2 separate regions of the Homo sapiens genome follow, and region 2 is linked to region 1. Evidence: fine-mapped expression QTL. A gene starts in region 1. The other region holds a variant in brackets. All regions are shown on one strand. Distances are between the middles of the regions.

Region 1 (11,689 bases):
TTTCTCAGGCTAAGTGATATAAAACAAGCTTATAAATGAGTGCATAAATCAAGCTGCCAATTTATTAAATAACAATAGAAAATTAAAACCTGTCATACAAACTAGGATATCTGTTACCTAATATATAACCATTCTGTCTCTCAAGACAGACCTGCATGGGAAGCCAAACTGTAATAAAAGTTTGTTTTATTCTCAGAAAGAAAACATTAGTTAGATGAGTCAGTTATTTAATGACATCTGTCCAGGAGAAGCTATGCATCCCATTTCATAGTTAATTCCTGAGGTCCCTGGGCTGCAGTTCTCATTCCCAGGCATGCACCTGAATTGCCTCAGGGGGCTCCTCGTTTTTTTTTCTTCCAATTCTATCAATACACTTGTCTTCTACAGATATGTTATTGCATAAGTCTACTGTTTTTAGAGAGATGTGGCTGGCCTCTAAAGCATTCCTTGTACACATCTACATGTTGATTTTGTGTTTTTCCTCTCAAAGAATAATCATAAATCTTTTACTTTTTTATTATTTATTTATTTATTTATTTATTTATTTGAGATGGAGTCTTGCTCTGTTGTCCAGGCTGGAGTGCAGTGGCACCATCTCGGCTCACTGCAAGCTCCGCTTCCTGGGTTCACGCCATTCTCCTGCCTCAGCCTCCCAAGTAGCTGGGACTACAGGCGCCTGCCACCATGCCCGGCTAATTTGTTTTGTATTTTTAGTAGAGACAGGGTTTCACTGTGTTAGCCAGGATGGTCTCGATCTCCCGACCTCGTGATCCTCCCACCTCAGCCTCCAAAAGTATCTTTTACTTTTACATTCTGTGGTTGGAGTGGTAGGGGTTTGGAGAGAATGGTGTCCTTAGCTGTAGCTTCCAAGTACTGGTAACATCAAACTAATATAGATGCTGAGAATTCTAGACAGTGTATGTACCTGAATATTTTGTAAGGCCACTTGAGAGTTTTTTCTACAATCTTTGAAGGCTTGAAGGGAGGAAACTGTTAGGAAAGGCTGGAGAAAAAGGGATCCCTGTTATGCAGTGGCAGAAAGTTTGGCAACACTGTTGCATGCTGAAATGCAGAAAATAGAAAATATATCTAACAAACTGGTGTATTTGCAGTTAAGGAAATTTCCAGACAGACTGTTGAAAATGCCAACTGATTAAAAAAAAAAAACCTATGTGGAATAAGATGTAGAGAGGTGAGATATAAAAGGAACAATTTCATTTTTAAGCAAAATTTAGAGAAAATATACACAGTCTGGGAACTTTGGGTTCAAAAATAAAACTGCTTTTCACTTCCAGCCTCTCCAGATGGTGAAACAACTAAGGCATTGCCTTAAGGGGAAGGTACAATCCAGGGTGCAGCTATTTAGATTTTTTGTAAAGACTGTACAAAGATTTAAAGCCATTTTACCTAGACCATTTCAGCTAGACAAAAGCACTTCTAAGTGTATAAGGGTGTTTTCCATCAGCTTTCTTACTCTCAGCCCAAGACGGAAAGTGTTTGTCTCAGAGGTTTGTGAGTGTGGCTTTTTTTTCTATTGGAGTGGATTATAATTTGATATATATGAAGTCCCCAAAATCTTAAAGAGAATTGTATTGGCAGACACACTGCCTACTTGGACTGAAAGGGCATATGTATCTTTTAATACTCCAGATTTGAATATTAAAATTTATATTTACATATTAGAAACTCAATATTTTAAATAAAATGACGTAAGGAAAAACCTGAAGTTATGTTGCAACAAAAATTAGTAGAAAATTAGAATTATGGCTGGGCATGGTGGCTCATGTCTGTAATCCCAGCACTTTGGGAGGCTGAGGCAGGTGAATTACCTAAGGTCAGGGAGTTTGGGACCAGCCTGGACTACATGGTGAAACCCCGTCTCTACTAAAAATACAGAAATTAGCCGGGTGTGGTGGTGGGTGCCACTAATCTCAGCTAGTGAGGCAGAAGAATCACTTGAGCCCAGGAGGCGGAGTTTGCAGTGAGCCGAGATCGTCCCATTGCACTCCAGCTTGGGTGACACAGCAAGACTCCGTCTCAAAAGAAAAGAAAAGAAAAGAAAATCAGAATCATATGTAGCTTTGTGAAAAGCTTGGTTACTGACTGTTGCTGGAATCAAGAGCTACTACAGTGTCATACTTCGAGTTTGCCGTACTTTGCCATTGTACTTGTGCCTGATAATTATTTCTACAATGACTGCATGTAGATCTAAACTAGATTAGTGTCGTTAAATCCTCTGCATTAGATCTTAAGAGCTCTTCCATTCTTTTTCGTTGACATCTTCAAAACTAGAATCCTACAAGAGCAACAACTTTGTGTTTTTTTTTTTTTTTTCATTCTTCCATCACAAAGAAAGGGGCAACAATTTTCATCTTGGCGTTTCTTCAAAGCCTTTGAATTCCATCATAAATTGCCAGATTAGTTTTCTTCATCCACTGTGCACCTTCTTTGGAGAAACTCTTTGCTTCACCTTGTTGATGAACCCTAAAGCCCTCCCTGCGTTTTTTTAATGAAAAAGAAGAAACAATGAAGCCCCCAGAAAGTATCCAATCAAGCCACTGTCATAGCCAACCTAAAAGAATAAATGACCCATGCAGATGCAATGTTTAACATTATCTTTAAACTTAATGGTGGCATGAAGAGAAGGCTTTCTTTTAAAAAACAGCCTGCTATATCTTATAATACCATATAAAGAAATTTACAAATGTAAGCTACTGGTTTAACTGCATACTGCTCCATTTTGCAATTTTTTTTGCATCCTAAAGCACAGATCATCTCCCCTGAGGATTTATCAATGCCTTCCTGTTTTGGAATCTCCATAGCAGCACTAGAAAAGATAGAGTATCCTTTCTTTTGAACTTGGGAGTTTCCCTGAAATCACCCCTTTGCCACCCAGCTCATCAGCATTGTCCCCTTTGGCACCATCCCCTTTTTCTCAAATTTCTTTATGCTTCAAGTCTCCATTTAACAGTTAATTAGGACCAGGTGTGTTGGTGCACACCTGTAATCCCAGCAGTTTGGGAGGCTGAGGTGGGTGGACAGCTTGAGCCCAGGAGTTCAAGAGCAGTCTGGGTAACACAGGGAGACCCTACAAATAATTTAAAAACATTAGCCAGGTGTGGTGGCGTACCTGTGGTCCCAGCTACTCAGGAGGCTGAGGCAGGAGGATCTCCTGAGCCCAGGGGATATAGGCTGCTGTGAGCTGTGATTGCGCCACTGCACTTCAGCCTGGGTAGCAGAGTGAGACCATGTCTCAAAACAAACAAAAAACAGTTAACTAAAAGAAACCACCTGGTTTTAATTGTAATTTTAAAATTTCCTTATTTATTAATGTGTAATTGCTGGGCCACATAGTAAACATATTGTTTATTATCAGGCATGAAAACTATATTGTGCTATTACATTCAGAAGCAACTGAGAGTTAACAATCATATTAAAAATTTTTTTTTTTTTGAGACGGAGTCTTGTTCTGTTGCCCAGGCTGGAGTGTAGTGGCACCATCTCGGCTCACTGCAACCTCCGCCTCCCAGGTTCAAGTGATTCTCCTGCCTCAGCCTCCTGAGTAGCTGGGATTACAGGTGTCCACCACCATGTCTGGCTACTTTTTGTATTTTTAGTAGAGATGGAGTTTCACCATAGGCCAGGCTGGTCTTGAACTTATGACCTCAGGTGATCCACCAAGCTCAGCCTCCCAAAGTGTTGGGATTATAGGTATCAGCCACCGTGCCCAGCTCGTATTAATTGTTTGGTGAATAAGATGTTATTTGTATAGTATTGTACATCTTAACATGATCATTTTTTGTTAATATTTGATACTATGTTTTAAATACTTGTTAAGAATTTTTTGGTTGATATGTAATGCATTTTATTTTTTCCCATTTAAAACTAAGTTCCTATTCAGCATTTTCTTGTGAAAGGATCACAGATATTCAGGAATGGATTATTGAAAAAAAATAAGCCTGCACTGCTATTTCTGTAATTTTTTGGATAAGTTTATGCTGTGTTTTTGATCTTCTTAGTTTCTGAATTGGAGATTTGAAAAAAATTGTGATTATCTTGTTCCTATTCTACCATTGTATATTGGATGTGTTGAGGCGGATGATAACTTTATCATGAGATCTGCATCTGGTCCTGAGGAATATTCTGGACTTTGGCTAGGATTCAGCAACTGCATGGAATTTTAGGTTGTCTCCCTTGGAAAAGGGAAGGTATGTCTATCTGTAGAAAGAATGGTGTGCCCGGATATTTGGGTAGCCAGAGACATAGAACTATGGCAGACACTGCTAGTTGCCTCTAATATCTGTTTTTTCCATTTTGCTCAGTAATAAAACCTCAAATGTTAGCTGGGCATTTGTCCCATTAATTAAAAAAGATTGTATTCACCATCCTCTCTTGCAATGAAGTGTGGCCATGTGATTAAGCTTTGTCCAAGGAACGTAAGTTGTAGTAGTTTGTATGGATCTTCTGGGAAGTTTTTTTAAAAACAGGAAGTATGCCCTTTTCTCCCCGCCCCCGCCCCCCCGTTTTTTTTTTTTTTTTTTTTTTGAGATAGAGTCTCTCTCTGTTGCCAAGGCAACAGTGGTGTGATCTTGGCCCACTGCAACCTCTGCCTCCTGAGTTCAAGCGATTCTCCTGCCTCAGTCCCTGAGTAGCTACGATTACAGGAGCGTGTCACCATTTCTGGCAAATTTTTGTATTTTTAGTAGAGACAGGGTTTCACCATGTTGGCCAGGCTGGTCTCAAACTCCTGACCTCAAGTGATCCACCCGCCTCAGCCTCTCAAAGTACTAGGATTACAGGTGTGAGCCACCGCGCCCGGCCTCTCTTCCCCTTTTGCTGGTCTTCCTGGCTAGCATGTTGATGTCATGTTATTTTCTAAGTTAGGGTGGAAATCACAGGTAGCAGATGGCATAGCAAACTGTCACAAAGAGGCTGGGATCCCTAATCGTTATGGAGCCACCATTTTATTCTAGGACTGCCTACCTTTACCTGAGAGAAAGATACTTTTATCTTTTTGCCATTGTTGTTTTGGACTTTTCATCTGAGTATTTCTCTTTTATTTTCTTCAAACAACTACACCTATCTGATATTATCTTGTTCAGTTTTCTTTGTTATTTTCTGTCTTCTCCCTCTAGAATACTAGCTTCGTGAAAATAAAAATCTTGTCTCTCTTGTTTCTGTTTGTTTCCTTAGCACAGTGCCTGGTAAATAGTAATGACTCAGTAAATATTTGTAGATGAATGAATGAAGACTAGAAGATTCGAATGGAATTCTTCTAAAGGTAGTTCGTTTCTGCTTTAAGAGACTATGGAATTTAGAAATCCAAAGAAACTGGCAGGTTTGTTACATGTGAGGAGATTGACAGAGGGGTTATATGACTCAAGCAACACAGGACCCTTGTCTTGCTAATTGTTGGCCAAGTTCCCTAGCCAGGTCTGAGTTCTAACACACGACTGCCGCCTCTACTGTGTGTGCTGTTTGGTTGATAAGCACCTATCAAAGATGCTGTAGACAGGATTGCTCCGTGGCCTAAGGTTTGGACAGGATGACCTATTGCCCTTCCCCACACACGGTCGGGGTATGAACATAGCTGAGACTTTTCAAGCCTTCGCAGGTATCACAGAGCTTGGAAAGCCCAGCACTTGGGGGTAGTTAGTTGCAACTAGCAGGCAGCCCTAGCTGTTTATTACCTGGGACTCTCGGGAAGGCAAGCTCCCGGTGCTGGGGAGGACGTTTGTCCCAGGCATTCCTCTGGCAACCCTCTTCCTCCACCAGCTCCCAACAAAGACATTTAATCCCTTTCTTCCACTACCCTCCGCTCTACTTGGCTTGCAGTTGGAAGCTGAAGTACAATTTGACCCAAGCCACCCCCTACTGCGCACCTGCCATAGCGCTTGCGCCCCGGAGCCGGGCACGGCGTCGCGGGGGTGGGGAGGCGGCTCGTCCCCGAGCTGCGCTCCCTCGCGTACAGCCTCGGCTCTGGGTGCGAAGATCCTCTCTGCCTCCGCTCACCCAGCCGCGCCGCCGCGCGGGAACGCGCCCCAGCGGATGCCCTCTTGAGGGAGCGCGCACGCGCCGCCTCTCCCCGCCTCCCCGGTGCGCGTCCCGCCCCCTTGAGCTGCGATACGCCGAGCGCTCAACATCCGAGGACTTTGGCCCAGAGTAACCCCGCTCTCGTGACCTTTCCCCTCCATTCCGCACCTCCGAGTGCTGGCCGGGCGAGAGGCTGGCGGCTGGGCTCTCGCGCCCCTCCCTGCAGGGCTCAGGCTCTCCCCCTCCTGTCTTCTCCGCGCTGTTCCTCGTCATGGCGGCCCTCAGCAAGTCCATCCCTCATAACTGCTATGAGATCGGCCACACTTGGCACCCTTCCTGCCGGGTCTCCTTCCTGCAGATCACCGGGGGCGCCCTGGAGGAGTCCCTGAAGATCTATGCTCCTCTGTACTTGGTGAGACCCGTCACCCGTCCCGCAGGGCGAGTTTAGTCTGGAAGATGGGCCGGGGGCTGCAGTTGGTGCTCCCGAGGGGCTCTGGGGGACTTGCCTTGTGTCGGGCTCTCTTTTGGAGGGGTCGGAGTGTTTTGGGGGGTCGGTAGGGGGAAGGGGGAGGTCGCAAGGGAAGGATATACCAATTCCTGCAAGGGAGAAGGAGGAGGGGAATTAGAGATTGAGCTGTCATCTGAATGCCTGTTGCTAGGAAGAGGATGGCTCCCAACTTTTAGAATTAAGTTTAGGACACTTAAAAACGTTAATTCAAAGACCAGCCTTATTTTCCTCTGGCCTGCCTTGTGATGGAGAGGTATTTGTAGGTCAGCGAGGCTATGAGAAGGACCTGCAATCTTTCCTCATCTAGTTTCCCCTGTTTTATTTTGCTTTTTTTTTTTTTTTTTTTTAATGAAGAAGGCATATTTGGCCCTAAGTCCCTGTGGCCTCAGATCTTGACTCAGTTTTGAGATGACAGGATTGTGATTTGGGGGTTTTGCAAGTGTTTTTGCAAGTTCACAGAACAGACTCCTGGGTTGAGATTGTGTGTGGTGATTTAAAGGGTGATGCCAGTCTTTCAGTCAGTGAACTTGGTTAGGACATCTGACTTTGTGTCACCTAGGACCTTCTGTTACACAACTTTACATACAGGGCAATTAATAGGGAATATTTGGCAGTATGTATATGTAACACTGAGGACTATTAAAGATGCTCTTAAATGTTCTCCGCAAAATCTTTTTTTCAATAATCTTATCCTTGATATTAAAGATTTATTATTACTTTGGCCATTGAAGTGCATTGTCTCATTTTCTTGCCTTACAGTTTGTGTCCTAAGAAGACAGATCATATTTTTTGTATGTCTTCTAAAAGTTTCAATATTCAGCAGATGATCAATTATTATTTCTCATTGAAGTAATTTAGATTTATACCCTAATGTTCCTGAAAGTGTGTCATGGCTGTATCTGTAGTACTTCTTGAAAAGTCTGATTATGTATTTCAGAGATAACACAGGAGAAGGTGATGACTTTGTTTGAGGTTGCAGGCACCCATTTCATTTTTATTGTATAGACTGATGCTTCTCACATTTTCATGTATGTTAGGAATCCTCTGAGGATTATGTTAAAATGGGGGTTCTAATTCATTAGGTCCTGGTGGGGCCTGAACCTCTGCTTTCCTAACAAACTCGTGGTAATGCTGATGGTGGGGGCTGCACTTTGAATAATAAAGATCTAGAGTAGAGGCCAGTAATTGTTATTGGAGCTGGAAATTTTTTCCTTGATTTTCTTTGGCAAAGATTCATGTTTATCTGCTTTTCCACATTCACTGTGGCCAGTCTATGTCTCAGAATTTTTCTTTTTATTTTTGGATACAGGGCCTTGTTGTATTGCCATTCTGGCTGGAGTGCAGTGGCGCAATCACGGCTCACTGCATAAGGCTCAGATTTGTAAAAAATAAAACATCTACAAACATTATTGAGCTCTTGATATACAACTATAGAAAAGATTGTTCCTGCTGTGAGAGGATTATGATATAGGTGGAAAGAGAGTTTATGCTATCTACTTCTCCCTCTGAAAATCCATAGCACTTTTCATTCATTAATTCATTCACTTAACAAATATTTGTTGAATGCCTGATACTTGTTATATCAATAGCCTAGACAATTTATGGATTATAGTCTATGATAGGGACATTCAGGGTAGCAATAGAAACATAGGTTCTCCTACTCCAACAAGGTAGGTTGGGGGTGTTCAGGAAAAGAGTTGTGTTTTACTACTATATCTCCAACAAGATTAAGTACTTATTGAGGATAAATTTTCCATCTCATGTGGCCTTGTACCCTTACATCTGTGTATTTGAAAATTTTGGTTGCTACTCCTCGGTAGTTGTGAAATAAAATTAGTGGGAACTGAATAGCATTTTATTTTATATTAGTGAAATGGAAGAAAATAAAAAATGTTAGGACATATTGCGCATACTAAGGGTAAGCATTATTTCATGACAGTTTTGTTTCAGTTATCCATGTAGGTATGGGTGGGGCTACTTGGAGCATATAGCTGTTCTCTTTGTGAGTGTTGGATAGTTGATTAAATGTATACCCCCATGTACTAAGATGCAAGGTGGTGTGGTGGAAAGAAATTGGACTTTAAAAAGTGATCAGGCCAGGTGCAGTGGCTCACGCCCATAATCCCAGCTCTTTGGGAGGCCGAGGTGTGTGGATCACCTGAGGTCAGGCGTTCGAGACCAGCCAGCTTGACCAACATGGTGAAACCCCATCTCTACGAAAAATATAAAATTAGCTGGGCGTGGTGGCACATGCCTGTAATCCCAGCTACTCGGGAGGCTGAGGCAGGAAAATCACTTGAACCTGGGAGGTGGAGGTTGTAGTGAGCTGAGATCATGCCATTGCACTCCAGCCTGGGAAACAAGAGCAAAACTCCATCACAAAAAAAAAAAAAAGGGATCAGGGTATCAGGATTTGAATCTCAGCTCTATCATTTACCAGCTATTTGACTTTGTATATGTTACTTTATCTTTCTTTTTGAGAATTAAATGAAATCATGCATTGATGATGTATCACATATTTTCTAGTTTATCATAGGTTTTGAATAGTTACGCATATTTTTCTTCCTCCCTTCTCCGGTGGCACTTAAGAGTGAAGTTCATGGAAGGTGGGTAGGGAAGGCCTCTTGAAGTAGGTGGCCCTTGACTTGTGCCTTGAGGGTAAGGCTATACAGACATTTATTCATGCAGTAGACATTTATAGCATACCTATTCTTAATGGAGAGGAGGGAGGATAATGTAAACTGAGGCAGAAAACTAAGTGGTTTTGTAAGAGAAGCAATGAATACATTGTCTATAACAGAACGTTTGCGTACAGGAGTTGTGAGCGATAACAACTTACATTTATTATGTGCTTAGTCCTTTACGTATTTTATCTTTTTTAACCCTTACACAACCCCAGCTTATTATCCCCATTTTATAGGTAAGATACCTGAAGGTTAGAGACATTAAGTGATTCACAAGATTTAGAGCTAGTAAGGAAAAAGACAGGATTCGGTTCTCATTTTTTTTTTTTTTTGACTGAAAGACTGAAGGACAGGCTAAAGGAGCCACTGTTCTGTGTGCATGCTATTGAGGTTTCTTTTTGAACAAAGGGGTTACAAGTACAAAATGATGCTTTCAGATGCTAAATCTGGTAGCACTGGGAAGACCGGATAGAAAAGATTTTTGAGAAATTGATGCAGCAATTTCACTAAGTAGTGGAAAGAGTCAGAACTCCTGTGGAATCTCACCCTGCAATTTACTATCAATATGATCTTTAGAAAAATTACCGAATCGCATGGAGCCTTAGTCCCCTTGCTTTGCAGAAGATGATTGTACCCATTTTTTAAGGTCTGTTGTGAGGAGTTAAATAGGGTAATAGTGCATTAATTATGATATATGTCTCTATCTTCTGTTAAAACAGTGGTTTGTATTTAGACTAGTGTAGTACCTCATTAAATGCTTAATATATGTCTAAATGAGTGAAGGTATGAATGAATAAGCATATGAATAGTGCGGGAGTGAAGACATATTTGGCAGGTCTGCCAGAGAAGATGAAAGGGCAGTTCTAGAGGCATTTTGTGGCAGAATGAACAGGACTTAGAGACCAAGGATATTGGGGCAGTATGAGGACTTCTTTATACTTCTAGGTTGTCAAGTCAGATTGTTGCAGTTGCCATTATTGCTAGAAATGGAGAAGTTCTAAAGACAAGCTGGTGTAGGGACCAATGGAGAGCTTTCCCCTTGGCCCTCTGAAGGTTCACCAAAAATCACTGACAGGAGGCCGATGGATTAATAGGAGAAAGGGCATGTACCAATTTATTTAACGTGTATACACGGGAGCCTTCAGAATGAAGACCCAAAAATACAGGGGAAATTATCTGTTTTTATGCTTAGGTTCAACGAAGTATAGACAGCTATGTAGAAATGTGATTGGACAATAATGGTAATAGACTGATTGGGGAAGCAAGGTCTGTCTGTCTAGATTCTTCTTGGCCTCTCTGTCTAAATTCTTCTTGGCCTCTCTGAGCATTCCTTCTTTTCTTTTGAGTATGGGGCAGGACCCTCTCTGGAATGGGGGCTTATGACCTACAGTCAAACAAGGTAGGTCAGATAGTTTCTTTATGGCCAGTTTTTACATGGAAAGGCAAAGGGAAAGTTAGTATGATATTTTAAGTTTTATGGCTGGCTTTGGGGAAAATAGGTTTTGGTTTTTATGACCTGCCTTGGGGAAAATTCTAGTTTCTAAGGCTAGCTCAGGGGAGAGTGGGACTAGGAGACAGGAGAGCAGGAGAAGGTCAGAAAAAAACTTCTGCTTCTAAGGCTGCTTCTGAGGCCTTCATTTTGTGGTATTGTATTCTGAGCCCCAACATGAAGGAAGATTTTTATCAAGAGTGTTTTCTGGAGCCTATAAAATGGGTCTTATGTATCTGCTTTTCATTGGAAACATTATCATGTGTGTTGTACTAAACTGATTTCTTCATGTCATATTTACTTTCTTGTTCTATACATTTGCCCTCATGCTTCTTTTAATCTTAGTATCTACAACTGTTTAGTCGGTATTCATCTTCTACTGTTTAAACTATTTCAAAATGTAGATGTATGATTCCTTTTATTATAATAGTGAATCTTTGTGTTTTCACAATTTGTAAAGAATATCAGCTCTCACTCATCATTTATTTCTGTAGTTTTGTTTTGTTTTTTTTTTTTTGAGACAGAGTTTCGCTCTTGTTGCTCAGGCTGGAGTGCAGTGGTGTGATCTCGGCTCACTACAACCTCCGCCTCCCAGGTTCAAGCCATTCTGCTGCCTCAGCCTCCCGAGTAGCTGGGATTACAGGTATGCACCACCACGCCCGGCTAATTTTGTATTTTTAGTAGAGACGGGGTTTCTGCATGTTGGTCAGGTTGGTTTGGAACTCCTGACCTCAGGTGATCCACCTGCCTCAGCCTCCCAAAGTGCTGGAATTACAGGAGTGAGCCACTGGGCCCAGCCTATTTCTGTAGTTTTTTTAAAAAGCAGATTCTTACATATTTTGTGATATACGGTAACAATGTATGCATGTACCAAAAATATATTTTAGAATTTTATATTGTATTTCTTGAATGTTAGTTATTGCTACATATTCTAAATAGGTGGTACCCCTTGCTGCACACATACATATGAAACAG
Region 2 (11,689 bases), 290 kb after region 1:
GGAGCTGGAACATAAACCAGGCAGTCTGGCTTCAGAACTTTCCCTCTTATCCATGTCACTGTAGATCCTTTACATTGTTATTGTTTAATCATTTTTTGTCATTTAGTTTTCTGCACATTAATAAGTTTTACTAATTGATTATTTTGGAAGGGAACTTACTTTGGAAAAGTACTGAAAGTCACATTTATAGGCTGTCAGAATAATGCTGGCCAGTGATTCAAAACTAATTTCATTCAGCTGTTTTCTCCAGAAAGGAAATGCTTGTGAATAAGCACAGAGACCCAGAAGGTCTATCCTGTACATTAGCTAAATTTGTGTGTTTAAAAAATGTTATATATCTTAGGTTAGGTAATGGATAACGTTAGGGTATATTTTTACTGTGTTGTGTCTATTAAACATTTGAAAACCTATATGCTGTTTGCCTTTTAGTCATTAAATGTTTGCACATTTGAATGTGTTTTCATTTGATGGTGAGACATTATGATGTCAATTATGAGAGAAATTACATTTAATGCTTTTGCCTCATTGGTAATGTTAGCTCATTTATTGTTTAGTTTCCTGTGAATTCATTCATCATAAAAATAATAATGAACCTAATTTTCTATTTGATACAGTCTAGTGGAAAGAATTCTAGAAGGGTTTAAAATAATGGTTGTAATCTCTGCGGTTTCAGATCTGGGGATTATCTCTTTAATCCTTAATCCTAACTGGATTATCTCTTTAAATAAAATATGAGACAGTGTATCTCGAAGAAGAGCCTTCATGTGACTTGAATCTGCCATTGAATTTAGATCCTTTGCCACGTTAGCCTTTTCTGTTTTCCCATCCCACATAAGATAAGTCAACTAAAATGAATTATTTTATTTTATAAACTATATTAATACTTGTTTACTGTATTCTTTGTTTTACAGATTTGCTGTCATGAACCGAAAAGTCCTTGATGTTTTTGGTACTGGTGCATCTAAACACTTTCAGGATTTCATCCCCAGGTTGGATCCAAGATACACAACTGTAACACCAGAGTTGCCCACAGAGTTTTCCTGAAGATGACTGTAACTTATTAATGTGACTAAATGTTTCATCTTGAAGAGTTAATTATGTTGAACACAAAGGAGGGGGCCCAAGCTCGAACTTCAGTGTTATTTCAGTTAGAGATACTCTTTTCATTTGTTTTGTTTTTCTTATGAATCAGAAATTCAGAAGCTTTTTAGGAAGATGTTGCTTAATAATTAAGCTTCCTCCATAGCCAGAATAAGATTCTGGATCACTGTAGTGACTGACATTATATATTATTGATCAAATTATGTCCACAAGCAATATTATATAATCTACGTAGAAGTGTAATAACAAACAAGAGTACACTTAAAATTACTTTAAAAGATGTCTTTAGTTCATTCCAATATAATTCTTGATTAAAATTAGGATTATTTCTACATTTTAGGATTTACAAAGGATCACGGGTACATGGATTTGGTCTATATATTTTTTTAAAGTTTTGAATTGGTATCTGTAGTAGTGGAATGTTATAGATTTGAAGTAACTCTCCACGGACAGTGCTGCTTTCGTGTAGAGCAATTTAATTGGAGAAGTGGCCATTCTTACTTCAGGGATGCAAAGATGGGTCTCATACCATTTGGATAAATGTCGTGGTATCCATGCTTTTTTTCAACTAATAACATCATCTCTCTTCATGACCAGTTAATTGGGCTATTTGGCAGCCCAGTGAACCTATGTACTAATGGCAAGTTAGGGGCAAATGGAAATGGACACATCCGATAAAGTTGAAATGTATGTTTTAATCTTTCACAGAAGTATTACACTTGAATATTTAAAAACAAAACTTTTAAACTTCCTATAGGTTTATGATGTTTGTTTTCATTTATATGGACATAATCCTTCATAGCTCAGTTTATATGCCATTGTTGTATTAGAAGGGATCAAAATCCTATGGAACAAAGTAGTCTTGGCAAGTTGGCAGTTTGTGTCCTCTCAGCTGTTTAACTTATGTAATGGATGTTTTGCACCTGAAAACACTATAAAAATCCAGTGGTTGTTTAAAAAGTCCATTTGTCACTAATTCCATTCAGGTTCTCCAACCTTCTTCTTGAATATCATTGTCACCATTTTTACTGTTAGAATAAAGAGGTGACACCATAAAGTCCTGCTGATAATGAGAGTAGTTCAGGACAGCTGTGATTGAAATATGGTCGCTATTTACAGTTTTTCAGGGAAAAGTTATACTTTTCTATGTTAATAAAGAGCTGAAGTGGTCTACAGTTAATGTGACATGTAGGGATGATGATATTTTTAAAATACATTTTGTTGCTAAAAAGTTTTTAGGCCAGTGCAAATTATGCAGTAGAACTTGTGTTGCAAAAGGAATTATAACCCATACTTTAAAAATGCTTAATCCCTCATATTCAATTTCATCAAGCCTTGTATACTTCTGCTTAAATGTAATTCAATCCTTGGTTGTTATGGCAAACAGAAACCCAACAAAAAGACAGACTCTGGTACTATGGTAACAGAGCCACTTTATCATTTGGTCAAAATTTGGCATTATGATTAGCTTTGTAGAACTGACCTGTTTATTTGGCAATGCTGTTAAAGGATCATTTCGGTTTCAGACTTCAAAGTTGATTAATAAATTTAATCTTAACTTTTTATTCACTGGAATCAAAACGATGGTTGGTACTGTGTTTACTGTTTAAAATGAAGTACTAAAGCCCTGAGAACTGCACCTCATTTTCTTTATCCAGAAATTGTGCTTATATATTTTCCTGTCAGGTTTAAAAAGATGTTTTAATTCATAAATTATTGTTTTCATTGACATTAAAAGACTGTGATATTGAAAGATGAATTACGAAATTTGCTGAGATTGTTTAGTAAAATTTTGCTGGTCAAAAAGGTGTATTTCTACAATTTACCTTTTCATTTTTATAAATTGCAGTCATTTTTTTAAATTTTATGTAAAATGTAAAATGAAATAGCTATCATGAAGCAGAATACAATGATGAATGTATAGGTTGAGTGAATAACCAATTTGCAGTGGTGGATTGAGAAGTCCAGTTTGATTTCATTGGGACAGACTGCAAAGTGTAGTTGTTTGAGCAAACACAAAGAAACTTTGTGTTTTTGAAGACAATCAGAATGATTACCTTTCTACCTCTAACTAATCAGGTATTGATTGACAACTTTTTGGCATTATAAATAAAGTAAAATAGATCTCTGCATTCCAAAATATGTTTTTTAGTTTATTTATATCCTGAAGAAATGGTAAGTTTTCACTGGAACTGATTACAGTAAACAATAATATGTCCCCTTAGTCTTTCTGACATTTTTATATAGATTGAGATTGAAAAACCGTGCATTTGGGGCAGTGGTATTATGGTCATTTCGTTGCTATTTTCTGTTTTAATAAAATCCTAGAACTAGTAGCAACCGAGTAAAGATTGAGTTTGCAAGATAACAGATTGTCTCAAATCTATTCAATTCTCAGCAGTTTTTCATCAAATAATTTCAGGATCCATTTTATTACTCATTTTTGAAGTAACACCTTTGGTTTAGTTTTATTTTCCCATAAATTCTGCTTTTGCTTCTGTAACTTTTTTCTTGAACTATAAGCATAGTCATCACTCAGTTGATATCTAGTTTATTTTTTGCCTTCATTCGTTGTTTAGTCAGTTGTTATTTAATTTAGAATTTTATATTTTTTTGGCTCTCAGATTTTATAATGAACTTTTATTAGACTGAACATGTATGTTTTTGATGGAATCCAAACTGAGCAAATGTCACACAGTATTTTCTTGTTGTGCTCGAGTGTTCGTCTCCTTGTAGATTGTATCTAGGCTAACATTTCATTTAGTTGTTAATGCTGACGTAATTGTTTCCTGCTTATATTTTATCATATCCCTGAGCTTCTGTGTGCTCTACATTTCATAGGTAATGAAAAGCAATGTCCTTTACTCTCAGGGAGCTTCGTCCACTTGCCTGTGTCACAACCTCTCCCTTGGTGCTAATTAGGAAGCTTCTTGTGGGACTGAAGGGAACTGACCACTGGAGCAATGGCCCAAATGTTGTTTTTGGAGCAGAGAAATTATTAGCCCAGAGATTCCTTAAATTCTCCGTGTGATTTATTTTTTTATTTTTTGAGTTGAGGTCTAGCTCTGTTGCCCGGGTTGGAGTACAGTGGTGCAATCATAGCTCATTGAAACCTCAAATTCCTTGGTTCAAGCAATTATTTCCCCTCAGTCTCTAATAGCTGGGACAACAGGCATGTGCCACCATGCCTGGCTAATATTTATTTTATTTATTTTTTTTTTGTAGAAACAAGGTGTTGCTATGTTGTCCAGGCTGGTCTTAAACTCCTGGCCTCAAGTGATCCTCTTGGGTTGGCCTCCCGGGACTCTGGGATTCCAGGTGTGAGCCACGGTACCTAGCCATATTTTTATTTGTATGAGTATTAAGTAGTTTGACACAGCAACAAAGTTGTCCTTTGTTTCCCAAAGGCAAAAGTATACATTTCTTACTAAGATATCTTATAAACATTCTCTCTCCTAACACCTCCTTCTAGTAATCATTTTCACATAGTAGAATACTTCACTCAGCTGAAAATGAGTGGCCAAGAAAAAAATACAAGAAAAGGAATAAGAAGTGATTATTTTCTTTAGGGCTGCACTTTGAATGTGATGAGTAATAAGGTTACCTTCATTGTGGAGGTGATGTTTACAATTGCCTCCAGCCCTTTACTATTGGTGCTGAAGCCACCATTGGTGCCAGCTCTATAATTTCTTCTTCTTGTGGAATTAACAAAGAAAGGAGTGTCAAGGACTGAGATGACCCTCAGATTGGGGGGCTGTCTTAGATTCTAGGGCTTTGTAGTACTATGTTTCTGTTTAAAGTAGTGGCCTCAGGTGACTTTGTAATAGCCCTGTAGTTGCAAAAAGGGTAACTACAAAGAAATGAAACTGACTCTAGTGTGTGTGACTTCTGGAAACAGAAGTGGGGCAGTAAGTTGGCCATGATATAGCTAGTGTCATAGGACTACAGCAGAGTAGTGAGTGAATGGCCTTAAGCTTACAGCTGTGGTGAATAAGAATGTGTGCTATTTTACACACAGAAGAAAATGATTGACTTTTGGTTGGAGGAAAGAATTTATATCTGGTCTTTTGGAAATTATTCTGTTGCTGTTTTATGTGGGCTCTCTCTCTCTCCCTCTCTCTCTCTCTCTGTCTGTCTCTCTTGCTGCTCCCTCTCCCTGCCACCTTGTCCATTCTCTGCTTGCTGGTGTTACTTTATGTTAACTAGTCTCCTTGGACTTCATTGCAACCTTTTAAGCCAGCCGTTCAAGTGAGAGGCTCTGGAGTGATCATAACGGTGATAACAATGGAGTAAACATTTCCAGAGACACTGATTTTTTTTTTATATGCTCTGTTTTTCTTAGGCAGGATGATGTAGAAGATAATTGCACAGATATGGAAGGAGATGTTTCTCTGTATGTGAAGCCTTTAAATCCAGAACAATTAATTTCTTCTCTTCTTAAAACCCCGTAACATCACTTGACTCTGGAATTTCCTATTTTCTTTTACTTTCTCCATTTTTTTTCCATCTGTCCCTCCTACGAATATGTTTTACATGAAATAATGTATTGGGTTTTATCTTTTGTCCCAGCAGACCTGAAAATCCCAGTATATTACCACAGACACACATACCATCTGGTCACCAACAGGGACATCAGGGCCAAGAGCAGTTTATACTTCTTTCTTTAGCTCACAAACTACTATAGCTTGCCTGTTCAGTTTTTTTTTTTTTTAATATTCAGTTTTGTGCCATACTCTCCCCCACCCCCAGCCTGCTGCCTCTGCAGAGCATAACATTCTAATCTTGTCAGACCGTGGATAATAGGATGTTCCCTGGTCTTGGCATAGAGGCCATAGGCATACAACATGCTTTATCTGCCTTGCTTAGACTCAGCATCCCTTTCTGTCTTGAGAGATTCAGGCTTCC[A/C]TAAAGTAGACCTGTAGACCTATGTTGGCTGAGGTCACCCTGCATTACTACTTTCCTCCATCCCTGAACTAGGACCAGTTAATTTTCGAAGTCTAGTTCTTCAGTGTCTATTAAACTTTTTCCAGTAGTTAATCGATCTCTTAAATTAATTTTCTTTTCAGATTATTTTTGGTCACCTAAGAGGACCCTGAAGCTATAGTGCCAAAGGTTTAAAGCATGAAGTACATTCTGTGGTTGGTCATTATGGGATTGGATGCCAAAAGGAATGGGAGAGAAGAGACTATAAACATATTTTAAGCCTTATCTCTTTTCTCCTATTCTTTTCTTTACCTTTCCTGGCCCATGCTTTCCTGCCATATCTTTGCTATGTATTTCTTCATCTTGAGCTCTCAAGGGAAAAAACAGGAGTCCTTATTTTTCTATTTATTTCAGGGAAAATTGAAGGTAAATAATATCTGCAAAGCTTCAGGAAGAAATTCAGTTGCATCTGAATCTGAGTCGGCAGTTTTTGATAGCCTGTCACTGCTCAGGGATAGCACTAAGGCTCTCTTCAGAACCAAAGGGCAGGATAAATAAATCTATGAAACTAGAGGCATCATTGAATCATCTGAGGACCTTTTTTTTTTTTTTTTTTTCACTAAAACGCTTCCTATAACTTGGATTAAAATTCAAAAATGGGATTGCAGTCATTGTTAATTGCTCAACTAGTGGCAGTTTTTCCTTGCTGAGGGAACACTGATGTTGTTTAAGACAGTTACATGCCTAGCCCCAGGGATGAATCATAATTGTTCTAGGCCTTTCATGTCTTTCCTTTCTTCTTGTCCAGATACTTTTCCAACCAGCCTTTACTCGGAGGTGTTCATGTGACCCTGTTTTGGCCAATAAAATGTAATGGAAAATCTGGGAAACACTTGGGAAAAATCTTCCCTCTCTGCTTAAAGGAAAGTTCTTTTTACCTCTTTTTCTCTTGTTCAAGGTATTAGTATTAGTCAGTAGGGTCTGAATCTGTGGCAGCAATCTTGCAGACATGAAATGAAAAGTACAAACATGAAAAACCAGCATATTAAAGATGCCAGGTCAGAAAAATAGAAAGAACCTGCTTCTGTGAGCCACTGAATGGTGCCATTAACCATCTGCATTTGAGCATTTTGAGAAAATAAACCTCTATTTCTTAAAGTTCTGTATCAGTCAGGGTTTCCCAGAGAGGCAGAACAATAGGGATAGAGAGATACATAGAGAGAGATATGAGAGGGATAGAGAGAGACACAGAGAGAGATATGAGAGGGGATTAAGGGAGTTGGCTCATGTGATTGTGGAGGCTGAGAAACCCCACCACAGGCCATTCATAACCTGGAGACCTTGGGATGCTGGTGGTCTGGCTCAGTACAAGTCCAAAAGCCTTGGAACCAGGGAAACTGATGGTGTAATTCTCAGTCCAAGGCTGAATTTTCAAGTCTGAGAACCTGGGGGTGGGATGGGGGAGTGATAGTTTTAAGTCCTGGAGTCCCAAGGTTAGAGGATCTGGGGTCCTAATGTCCATGGGCAGTTGGAGAAGAGTGTATCCCTGCTGCAGGGGAGAGAGAGAAGCCAATTCTCCTTTCTTCTGTTTTTATTCTACCCAGGCCTCCAGTGGATTGGAGGTGCCTGCCCATATTGAGGGCAGATCTTCTCTGCCTAGTCCACGCTAACTCACATGCCAATCTCCTCTGGAAACACCCTCACAGACACACCCCAAAATAATGCCTTACCAGTTCTCTAGATATTCCTTAATCCAGTCAAGTTGATGCCTAAAATTAACCATCACAGGCTTTATGGCTCTATTACCCAAGAATTCTGTTACTTTCAGCTGAAAACATTTCTAATGGACATATTCCAATTCTGTATAGATCAGATCTCAGTTTCATTTCCCATTATATCCTTCTCTCTCTTGATTTAGAATTCTCTTTTTCTCCACTCTTCTGTGTATGCTAAAATACTGTCAATCTCGTCTTTGAAGGTTTTGCTCATCTTTAAAAAATCTTAGTTGATTATGTTTTATGTGTCATTTAATTAAGGAATGAATTTGCTTATTTTTATTTCAGTAGCTTTTGGGGTACAAGTGGTTTTTGGTTGCATGGATGAATTGTATATTGGTGAAGTCTGAAATTTTAGTGCACCTGTCACCAGAATAGTGTGCATTGTACCCAATATATAGCTTTTTATTCCTTCCCCTTCTGAGTCTCCATAGTCCATTATATCACTCTGTATACCCTTGTGTATCCATAGCTTAGCTCCCACTTACAGTTGAGAACATACAGAATTTGATTTTCTATTCCGGAGTTACTTTACTTAGAATAATGGCCTCCAGCTCCATCCAAGATGCTGCAAAAGACATTATTTCATCTTTTATTTTTTATGGCTGAGTAGTATTCCATGGTGCATATATACCACATTTTCTTTATCCACTCATTGGTCTATGGGCACTTTGGTTGATTCTGTATCTTTGCAATTGTGAACTGTGTTAACAATAAAAATATATATACGAGTGTCTTTTATGGTAGATCTCCTTTTAGTTCTTTAAGACACCTCCATACTGTTGTCTGTAGAGGTTGTACTAATTTACATTCTCACCAGCAGTGTATAAATGAGACAGGGTCTCACTCTGTCACCCAGGTTGGAGTGCAATGGCATGATCATGGCTCACTGTGGCCTTGACGTCCCAGGCTTAAGTAATCCTTCCACCTCAGCTTCCCTGGTAGCTGGGACTACAGGCACATGCCACCATGCCTGATTAATTTTGTTTTCGTTTTTGTTTTTTTGTAGAGACAGGGGTCTCACTGTGTTGCCTAGGCTGGTCTTGAACTCTTACACTCAAGCAATCCTCCCTCCTAAGCCTCCCAAAGTTCTCCAGTTATAGGCGTGGGCCACTGTGCCTGGCCTTATAAGTGTCATTTTTAAAACATTGGTTTTTAACCATATAGAAATAAATCTAAAAAGAGCCTGCAAAACAAAACATCCTTTAAACATGTTTAAGTAGATAGAATATCTGAAATTCTGGATTTTTCAGTCACTTCATTATTATGCCGTGGCAGCCAAGTAATCCTTAACTTCAGTTGGATGAACTAAACTTCCTAAATACAGCTTCATTGCAGATTCCAACTTCTATGTTATCTTCTGTCATTTGCCTTTTAACACTTTCCTTTAGGGTTAAGATGGCTATATGAATGGCATTTTAAATTTCAGATCTTCATTGTTTCTTCTCTCAAAGAAAGTTTTCCCAGTCACACAGTTCTTTCCCATTGCTGTGGCATTCAAAGAAAGCTCCAGATGGATCTGCCTGAGTAAATATGTCTGTCCCCCACAACCACAAATAGGTAGAAAGACTCCAAATGGACAAATACCACCAGACTCGGTGTATTCTTGCATCTCAGAAGCTAATTTCTCTACCAGCTGAGTTGTGGGAATGGGTTCTTGGTAAACAGGATAGTATTGCTCAGCTAGCTTTTGAACTCCATGCACAAGCATTCTGTAATCTGCACCCATGCCACTATACACCAAACCTGTATGTTTGGTAATTGGTTCCACTCTGTGTACACTTTGCTCATCATATAGAATAGATTTCTGCTCTTCTCAGTTGCTAATACCATGCCATTTGCTGCTTTAACTCCCACTGAAAGGGCTTTTCCAGCTAGAGCAGCCAAAGCCTATTCAATATGGACAAATTTACTAGACAGGCCCAATGTAGTCAGCGAGAAGCTGTAACTAAGTTCCTCCATCTTTATCCAGATAACCCTTTTCTCTCTGTCTTAGTGCAGCAGTTTGCTAATACCCCCAATAAAGCACATTTCATTTGATTCTGATTAGCTATGTATTCATCTGTTGCTCTTTTAGGTTGTGGTATATATTTGAAGAGCAAAGACTACAGCTTATCCTCCAACTGAGTGTATGTCAGGCCTTTATAAAGGGAGTGGAGTTAGGATGGGAGGTGGTTTTCTCAGCAGCTGCTTGTTGGATGCCTGCTAACTTTATGGAGTCTGCAGACCAAAAATTCACACTTAATTTTTCCTATAAAAGTCTGGAAAATATTATTCTTACAAATGATTTTGTAAATACTGCAGGAAATTGGCTCCTACTACTATCCCAGCAGCTATTGAAGCCAGTTTGGCTTCAGGTCCTAGACAAATGATTTGTCATCTGTTTCATTTGTTTGTTTTTTTTCCTGACAGAGCTGGAATTCTGGATTGTTCCCCACTTTAAAAACTTCAAAATCCAAACCAGAAGTAGACAGGACAGGACACGAGGCTCCCCCTTCCCACTTAGTTTCACAGAGTGAAAAATCACAGGCAGTTTTCCCAGAATTATATTTTATGTCTGGCCTTTGAATAGCATATTAAGGTAAAAAAAAATTGTTGCTGTTGTTTTTCTATAACAGATAGGGCCTTAGATATTTGAGAGAGGAAAAGGATTGGAATCACTCTTATCAATATAGGTAGGGCTCTAACAAATAGCTTCTGATACTCATTTTTAGAGGAAAGAGAAGGACACTAAAATTTAAGAGGTGTGCCTCTGATATGTGGTAAATTGTTTATATCTCACTCAATCCTCACACCTTATCAGGTAGGTATTATTAGTTCTGTTTTATCAGCTAGGGAACTGGGAATCAAAAAGTGTGGTAATTTACCCAAGGTAACAATACTGGAATTTGAACTCAGATCTCCAAGAGTTGAAATTTTAAGTAGCATCGTTACTCACTCCCCTTAAAATTAATCATTTATCACTGAAATAAAAACCCTTGCCTCCCAAAGTGGTTGATGTTTACTTTCAGCTTAACTAAAAGAATAGGAACAAGATTTACCTTTTCATCTGAAACAACTAAAAGACCTGACAATACTGTATGTAATAAAACAATAGTTTTCAGACACTAGTCATGAAGCAGTGAATGGCAACAATCCTGAAAGAAGGAACACAAATGAGTTGTGTTTTATGATTCCCCTAGCTGATATCTGGAGAGAGATTCCAGATTGCAGCCTAAGGAAAGAGAACTAAGAGAGAAACCAGAGATTTCTCTGAGTTGAGGGAACAGAGGTGGGAGTCCAGAGAGGCTAAAGTCGATGAAGTTCATAAGGCAGAGTACAAAAGAGGAGAGAGCTGCACAGAAAAAAGGCTTGCAGATCTCAAGAGCGTCCCCCTTGAGACATAAGCTGAGTACTTCGGCATGCATGGGAAAATTACCAAGGTTGGAGAAAGAACCACCCGAAAGGAGCAGAGGGAGCAATCATTGGAGTTCACGCAAGGAAGCGAGTAGTTTGTGTTCCTGCTAGCCAGAGTAGCACAATTCATTTTACAAAGGGTGCTGGATAGAGTAGTCAGGAAAATAGAGCCTCATAGGGGAGCAAAATTAACCCTAGACTAAAGGCTGGTCTCATCTTACCTATTGAAGCTTAAAAGCCTCAGTTTCCGGCTGGGCACAGTGGCTCATGCCTGTAATCCCAGCACTTTGGGAGGCTGAGGCAGGAGATGGAGACCATCCTGGCTAACATGGTGAAACCCCGTCTCTACTAAAAATACAAAAAATTGGCCGGGCGTGGTGGCTAGGTGCCTGTAGTCCCAGCTACTCAGGAGGCTGAGGCTGAGGCAGGAGAATGGCGTGAACCTGGGAGGTGGAGCTTGCAGTGAGCCGAGATCGTGCCATTGCACTCCAGCC

Direction of the effects. Alleles are on the strand shown, and positions count from the first base shown. SD is a standard deviation of normalised expression in the study named.
For the expression in prefrontal cortex of the gene that starts at base 6,193 in region 1, C is the low allele of the variant in region 2 and A is the other (moderate effect, 0.46 SD a copy in GTEx).

Evidence for each region. PIP is the estimated chance that this variant, and not a neighbour inherited with it, causes the effect. A credible set is the group of variants that fine-mapping cannot tell apart.
Region 2: its variant is the best candidate, but not a certain one, in a credible set for the expression of TMEM135 in prefrontal cortex (GTEx, PIP 0.53).

The regions. Positions count from the first base shown.
Region 1 is chr11:87,031,742-87,043,430 of GRCh38, forward strand. TMEM135 (transmembrane protein 135) reads left to right here and starts at 6,193. Exons shown (of 15, transcript NM_022918.4): 1 at 6,193-6,445. The coding sequence starts at 6,305. It overlaps LOC105369422 (a long non-coding RNA gene), which reads right to left and starts at 6,054. Exons shown (of 5, transcript XR_007062827.1): 1 at 5,883-6,054. RefSeq lists an enhancer at 5,668-6,168 and a silencer at 5,825-6,214.
Region 2 is chr11:87,320,290-87,331,978 of GRCh38, forward strand. It overlaps TMEM135 (transmembrane protein 135), which reads left to right. Exons shown (of 15, transcript NM_022918.4): 15 at 912-8,535. The coding sequence ends at 1,044. It also overlaps the pseudogene LOC100420680 and the pseudogene PSMA2P1. Among named protein-coding and RNA genes, the nearest start is that of TMEM135, 290 kb to the left of the region's middle. The variant A/C (reference allele first, on the strand shown) is at 6,007.